Linked DNA regions of Homo sapiens. The protein of the gene in region 1 interacts with the protein of each later gene in a pairwise test. Each region holds a gene or a part of one and is shown in the gene's direction. Other genes may lie near its edges.

Evidence for each region.
Region 2: the proteins of PPARD (region 1) and ITGB5 interact in a two-hybrid assay, tested with the Homo sapiens proteins (one study listed by BioGRID).

The regions. Positions count from the first base shown.
Region 1 is NC_000006.12:35,411,745-35,415,557, forward strand, and holds part of PPARD (peroxisome proliferator-activated receptor delta), read left to right. Parts: intron 1-3,813. UniProt on the Homo sapiens protein: Ligand-activated transcription factor key mediator of energy metabolism in adipose tissues. Receptor that binds peroxisome proliferators such as hypolipidemic drugs and fatty acids.
Region 2 is NC_000003.12:124,842,162-124,845,974, reverse strand, and holds part of ITGB5 (integrin beta-5 isoform a precursor), read left to right. Parts: intron 1-3,813.

The DNA.
Region 1 (3,813 bases):
CAAGCAGTTGTAGCTTCTCCTGTCTCACTTATTGGTTCCCCTTTATTTATCAGCAGTGCAGACAGTTTTCTCTAGTACCCTGTACTGTTCTGTCATCTTCATCATCATCATGTTATGTTTACCTTCAAAAGCACCCAGAATCCATGCAGCCCCTGGCTTTCCCTGCTGCAGTTCCCCCTGCTTTTTTGTTTTTGTGGTTTTTGAGACAAAGTCTCCTTCTGTTGCCCAGACTAGAGTGCAGTGGCACAGTCTCAGCTCACTGCAACCTCTGCCTCCTGGGTTCAAGTGATTCTCCTGCCTCAGCCTCCCGAGTAGCTGGGATTATAGGCGTGCACCACCACGCCCGGCTAATTTTTGTATTTTTTTAGTAAAGATGGGGTTTCACCATGTTGGCCAGGCTGGTCTCGAACCGCTGGGCTCAAGCAATCCACCCACCTCAGCCTCCCAAAGTGCTGGGATTACAAGCAGGAGCCACCGCGCCTGGCCTGATCCCTCTGCTTCTTGCTTTCTCCCACCACTTCTCTCCTTACCCAAGTGCTGCAGGCCTGCACATGCAGCTCATCCTCGCTCCTCCCCTTAGAGGGAACTCAGGGTCATAAGGATATACTGCTGGGAGTAGACACCCTGCACTCGCTGCTGCTTTCAGCTGCAGGAGATCCTAGCCACAGGCGGTGACTCAGGCAGAGGAGCAAGCCCACCCCGCAGAAATGGGCTCTGGACCCCTGTGACTGCATGGAGCAGGAGGAGGCAGTTAGTGTCCAAGCTAAGGCAGGGTGAAGGCTGTGGAGGTAGCGCAGGCTCCTGTTTGGGTCTGCAGCTAAGATGGGTCTGAATCCTGGAGCCACACCACCTTGAACCTGCAAAGCAAGTCCCAGAATTTTGCAGAAGTTCTTCCTCTTCAGTGTATAGAGTTGGGTGGAGGGAGTATAGAGCCATCATTCAGTCCTTCTCATCTCACCCAGGATCACCTGGGAGTGACCAAAGTAGGCCAAATGTGATTCTAGGGCCAAAGTGAAGGTGTCCGCCATTCCCCGAGTAAGCAACTTCCTGTCTATTGGCTGGTAACTGGGATGGCTTTGGAGACACAGCCTGTCTCAGAAGAGAGGAACAGCTAACCAGGAGTGATAATTCACTCAGTGCCAGTAGCACATACTGTTCTAAATCTGAAGAAGGTAGGGAGGGTTAGAAAGCAAAGGGAAGACAGTGGGGACTAAGAATGAGTGTGGGATGTCATGAGGATTCAGGGGAGAATGCAAGGAGAAGAGACGGCCACAGGGTTTGTGGCTATGCCGCCTGCCGTGGCCCACCTCATCCCCACATCTGAGCCCAGGCAGATGGAAGTCCCCTGCAGAGCAGTGTTCTGTCCTGGAGTTTCCTCCACACCCCTTCTTGGGACCAGGGCTGTTTCCCAAATAGCATCACTGTTCCCGTGCAGGCCAGGTGAGGTGCCTGGGAGCAGGGGTAGGGTGAGGCAGGCATGGCGGTGACCTCTCAGGCAGCTTCGTTGTGGGATTTAGGGCACAGCGGGAAACGTCCAGGGCAGAGGTTGCCTCACCAGTCACATGGTACTATGTAGGCGGTGGTGTTTAATAGATTCTGTTTATCAATAAGTGGATGAAGTGGAGATAGACTTCCTTGTTCAGTCATTGAAACAGGAGAGAGGGTTACTTGACATAATCACTTTGTGTTAAAGCTGTAGTGTATGAAAAGTTCCCAAAAATTCTACAAGACAAGCAACCTAGCAGGAAAATCAGAACAGGTAACAGTAAGACAAATACGAATGGCCTGAAATCCCGACAGGTTTTTCAGTCTAACCAACTCAAAGAAAGCACCTTAAGTTGCAATGCCATTTCACCTGTCAGATGGGTGGGGAGGACTTGGTCCTCCCACCACCAGGGGTGAAAGGGTAGTGTGGGCCAACACTTCTTAATGTGTGATTCTTTTTTTTTTTTTTTGAGACAGAGCCTGGCTCTGTCGCTCAGGCTGGAGTGCAGTGGCACACGATCTCAACTCACTGAAACCTCTGCCTCCCGGGCTCAAGCGATTCTCCTGCCTCAGCCTCCCAAGTAGCTGGAATTACAGGCGTGCACCACCGTGCCTGGCTAATTTTTGTATTTTTAGTAGAGATGGGGTTCCACTGTGTTGGCCAGGCTAGTCACGAACTCCTCAGGTGATCCTCCCGCCTCGGCCTCCCAAAGTGTTGGGATTTCAGGTGTGAGCCACCACACCTGGCCAAGTGTGCATTTCTTTTACCCTGCATTCCCACTTCTAGGAACGTGTCCTGTGTAAGTACTTGCTCAGCATGCTCAGAGATTCCCATGCCAGCTTATTTACTGCAGGACTGCTCATAAGAGCAAAAATAGGAACGTGCCCATCTGTGGGGAACTGGTTATGTAAACTGTGGTAGAGCCATATGGTGGAATACTCTGGAGTCATTGAAAAGGATAAGGCTGGTTTATATATATATTAAATAAGTTCCTGACAAGTTGGGGATCCCATTGTTTAAAATCCTTATGTTTCATAGAAGGCACCGGAAGAGTCTATACCGAAGGACTCAGGGGCTAACTCTGAGGAGCAGGATCATGGTTAAGGAGGCTGTGTCATAAGATCCTGCATACCCTTCTGTGTTTTTCTCAACAAGTCTGCACTACTTCCATAATTTGAAAGGCAACTGTACTTTTTTTAAGGGTAAAATTAACTGTTTAAAAGGGGGGTGAGGATCTGGCAGGTGAGGGGCCCTGGAGACAGAGCCTGATCATGTGTCCAGAGCAGAAGGGCTTGGAGATCACAGAGACCAGGGCAGGCATCCCAGGTCTGTCACTGTGAGCTGTAGCCCTCGCCAGTGCCATCACTTCTCCAAGTCTCATTCTCTTCACCTTTATAGGCTGTGTCCTACCCAGCCTGAGGGCCAGCCAGGTGAGAGTCAGTGGGGGTATGTGACACATCGCAGGTCTCAGCACCTGCTAGTTCTCTGCCCCATCCCCATGAGTTATTACTTTGGCCTCGGGAGTCCCCTGAGGGACCCATAAGGACAGCGCACAGCTTTGAGCCCTGAAACAGCAGGAAGGCTCCACAGTCACCCCTGACCACCCTCCTCAGCAGTTCAGCACTGACTCTCAGTGCAGATATTGAGCTCAACACCTGCCATGCACCTTCTCACCCTCCCCCCAGCCAGGCAGGACAGACCTTCCCATCAACAAGGAAACTGAGGTTACCAGAAACCCACTTGCCAGGGTCCCCTGGGCGTGTAGGAGTAGAGACAGCTAGAGCCAGGATTCACCTCCCATTCCCATTCTCATCCCTCCTGCTTCAGTGACATCCATCCCAATCACCCTTGAGAAAGAGGAAGATAAAGTGTCCTTCCTCCTGGCCTCAGCACCTCCTCACTTGGCAAGCACTTGGTGGGCATCAGGCTGGGCCCAGCACTGTGCCCAGGGCTGGCCATACAGTGGTGGACAAGGCTGAGTGCCTGTCCCAAGGAGCCCACAGTTCAGGCAAACAGGACAGCAGAAGTAAAGAGGCTGCTCAGTAACCCAGCCTCAAATCCCTGCAGAATTTGGCCTGACTTCAGAAGCTGCTGGGTGCTTGTTTGCCTGTGAGCTCTGCCAGCAAAGTAAATAGACCAATCGGGCGCCTCCTGGCTGTCTTCACAGCCATGACAACGGCATTCTCCCAGCATTGGAGGCTAGATATGCAGGAGAGCTCTCAGCCACAAATGATGTGAATAAGGTCAATAGTGTCTATTTGCTGAACTTGTCATCAAAGATGGTGAAACTGATACTTTACTCTCTGGGTGAGAGGGCTAGTGTTTAC
Region 2 (3,813 bases), on another chromosome or scaffold:
CCACAGGGACTATTACTACTTTGATTCTGTCTCCAAGGCCCTTTTCAGCTAAGTCTGGGTGTCAAATGTTTTTGTTGAAATTTTGCTGCTTACCAGGAGCAACAGCATCTTAACTGCAAGCCTTAAGCCTTTTTTCAATTCATCTGAAATAGTGATTTTATTTGCTTCTTTTCACCTCTGTCCTAATTGGGCCCTGTCTCCAGACAGATAGGGTGTGTCCCCACTTTCATTCTTCCAAGGCCCTTCCACTGACCGAGACACTAGATTGGAAGCTGGCAGAGAATCAAGGGCTGGCTCTAGGCGCTCAGCATTTAAATATTCAAAGTTATGACACATCATTACTTATTCAGAGCTCACTCTCTAAGTCCTCTAAGGCAGAGCCTGTTGCAGACAGTAAAACTCCTGACAGTGAGTACAAGGCACACTGAAAAGCTACTTGTAAGGCAGGAAGTCCAGTGAAGAATGAGAATGTGGAAGGAAACCTCGGGCCTGAGTTATGTGAAGCTCTCTTCTCTGAGCTGGGGAGGCACACGCAGCGTGGGGGCACACTGTGGCTTGGTGAGCAGGCCGAGCTTTGTCTCCCCACGTCCAGGCAGCACGGCATCCTGTGTCTCCTGGGTTCAAGTGATTCTCCTGCCTCAGCCTCCTGAGTAGCTGGTATTACAGGCACGTGCCACCACACCCAGCTAATTTTTGTATTTTTTAGTAGAGATGGGGTTTCACCATGTTGGCCAGGCTGGTCTTGAGCTCCTGACCTCAGGTGATCCACCCACCTCAGCTTCCCAAAGTGCTGAGATTACAGGGGTGGGCCACCACGCCCAGCCTAAAGTATTTTAAATTATTCTGTTTCTGTTTCTTGAATTGTGGATCCTTCAGGTGGATCCACAGCCAGTCAGTGTATTGGACCTGCTGACATGCCTTCATGAATTGTTTTTCATGCAATTTATAAGCTTTTCATTAGCTCTTCCTTGGAGGTTGTGGGGGCATCCCTGCAGAGCAGTTTTATGTTTGCCGTTGTCGAGAATCTCCAGGTTCACCGTGGGACTAGTTTTTCTGTTAATTTTTCAAATGGAGATGTCTTCACCATAAAAGCAGTGTATTCCAATTGCTCAGGCCTGGAGTTACAGTTTTTATGGGTAATTCATCTCATTCATGGTAGATGGTCAGCTTCCGTGCTGCTTTCCTAGACCAGTAGCTGGAGTTTTTCTGTTTCTGGTTTTAGTAGCACAGCAGCTCATTGTGCTGTTCGGCTTTATGCAGACAGCCCTATTCCAGTGTTCAGCCCTCTGCAGGACTGAGGCTCAGCATCTATTCCTGGTAGACCCTGCTCCAAGCCTGTAGGGCCTCAGTCAAGGCCTGACCCATTGCGGGGGTCCTTGGCATGAGTGCCTGCCCATTTCCTACCTTTTTTTTTTGAGACCGAGTCTTGCTCTGTTACTCAGGCTGGAGTGCAGTGGCGGGATCTCAGCTCACTGCAACCTCCACCTCCTGGGTTCAAGTGATTATCCTGACTCAGCCTCCTGAGTAGCTGGGATTACAGGTGCCCACCACCATGCCCAGCTAATTTTTGTATTTTTAGTAGAGATGGCGTTTCACCACGTTGGCCAGGCTGGTCTTGAACTCCTGACCTCAGGTGATCTGCCTGCCTCAGCCTCCTAAAGTGCTGAGATTACAGGCGTGAGCCACTGCACCCAGCCCCCACCTATTCTTTTAAGTCCATTCATTTGTTTTTTGGTGTTTTCTTTTTTTTTTTTTTTTTTTTTTTTTTTGCCAAAACCAAATACTTCTGAAAGGTCCATTCATTTATTGAATGGTTTCCTCTTCGTTTCTGGGATTTACTTTCTAAGCTTCCAGCCTAGGCTATATATTAAAAAATTTTAAATTACATTTTATCCAGCAGTTGTATATGTTTAGAGTTAGAAGAAGCAGATAAGATGTTTTCATTCCTGTTCCATGACATGGAGAGCCTTTCCATGTCAGCTTGATCCATGATATTCTCCTGAGGCATTAGATTGTTTTCTGGATTTGCCTAGGTCTGGTGTCTTCAAATTGGATTCACTTTTTATACATACAGACACTCCCTTGGCTCTTTAACCATATATATTTTATTTTTTATCTCCCTTGTTAATAATCCTTAATTTAGTAACTCTGTATGCATGGCGCTTATTTGGGGTCTCACAGCACAGACACATGAGAGGGGTAGGATAGTCTCCTGGCATGACCCCAGAACGTCCGGATCTTCAGGCCACTCAGACAGCTGCTCTGGGGTTAAGTCAGATAACTCATCACAGGTGACATCCTATTCCAGTGTCAGTGGAGACTCTCCTAGCGTCTGTGTGACAAAGCTCTTTTCCTAAGTGACTCTGACTTGGTTATAGTAAATTCTCTACAATGAAGGCTTCTCTCTGGCAAACACATCTTCTAATTCCTAACTACTTAACAGTCATTCTTTGCAGTAAAAATGTATCTGCTCATTGCTGTTTGCGGGAGTGAAAGGGAGGAGGTAAAACATGCTGAGCTGTAGCTGAGTTTGTCACAGCTTTCCTGGTTAAACAGCAATCATTATTCAGTTTCTTTTCTCCCTGTCCGCAACCAACCGGACCAAGTGTAAAAAAACCACACACCTGAAGTCCTAAATCATGGGCCAGAGCCACATAGGCCAGGGCAGGATCTTGGAGGAAGAGAGAGGGGGAGAGTTTGGATAGACTTACTTCCTTCTGGGCCTATGATCCACTTGCCAAATAGCTACAGATGGGACCTCAGTTCCTTCTTCCAGCTGGGAATGTAATTTCCATGATTGTTCTTTTCATGACAAAATGAGGAGGTAATGGAAAGTTTGGGTGGCCCGAGGCTGAGGTTAAAAGAGAGTTCCACCTGTCCAAGTACAAGGTGTTCATGAAGACTTCGGGAAAGGAGAAGGGAGAAACACAAAGGAAAGCCAGGCAGGGAGATCCCATCGCTGCCGCCGGCCCCGAGAGGGAGAGCGCGACTATCACAGGAGTGGGGCTGATTGATTCTGTGCAGGGTGGGCCTGTTGCTGGGGACTCTGTGCTGTGCTGTTGTGACTGTGTGGATGGAGAAGGGACTGTAGCCCTGAGAGGGAATGGAATAGCCCCTTAGAGAACCAAAGATTGCCCCTTTACAGAAGGGAGCCTGCCCAGACCTGCCCTGGTGAGTCTGCTTTTTGACAGCATTTAAGGCAGGGTCCTCCTAGCTGTTGCTAAGGCTGTTTTCTTTCCCATGTATGCAGCTTGAATTAGATTATAAAGCCTTTCCCTCAGGCCTGTTAGTGCTCGTTTTCCATCATTTATCCTGAAAGAGCGACTTCCTTAACATGGCTGGAGACCCTGCACAGTCTGGCCCAGCCTGCCTCCCAGGCTCCTCCTCGCCCATCCTCACCCGTTACTCTGCACCACAGCCCCCCGACCTCCCTCTGTCCTTGGGCTCTGTGCTCCCTTCTGCCACAGGACTCTTGCACATGCTCTTCTCTGGCTGGGACACTCTCCCCTCTTCCCTTTACTTTGTGAACCCATTGGTAAAACAATATAAGCTCTCTCTTCCAACTTTATTAGTTCTAGATCAAGCTGAAACTCTTAGAGCTGTAATGGAAAGTAACTCCCTTCAGGAATAGGGCCACTTGGAGTCTCCACAGGAGACTGAAAAGGAGATCACCCCATATTTCAGGAGAAAGGCTTGGTATTAACCTATTATTGATGTGTAATACTTCCTTCTTTTGTAATTTCCAGACATAACTTTCCATTTGAAGATGCTTAGTTTCTAAATAATTTTTATTGCATTTAGCAGAATTGATAG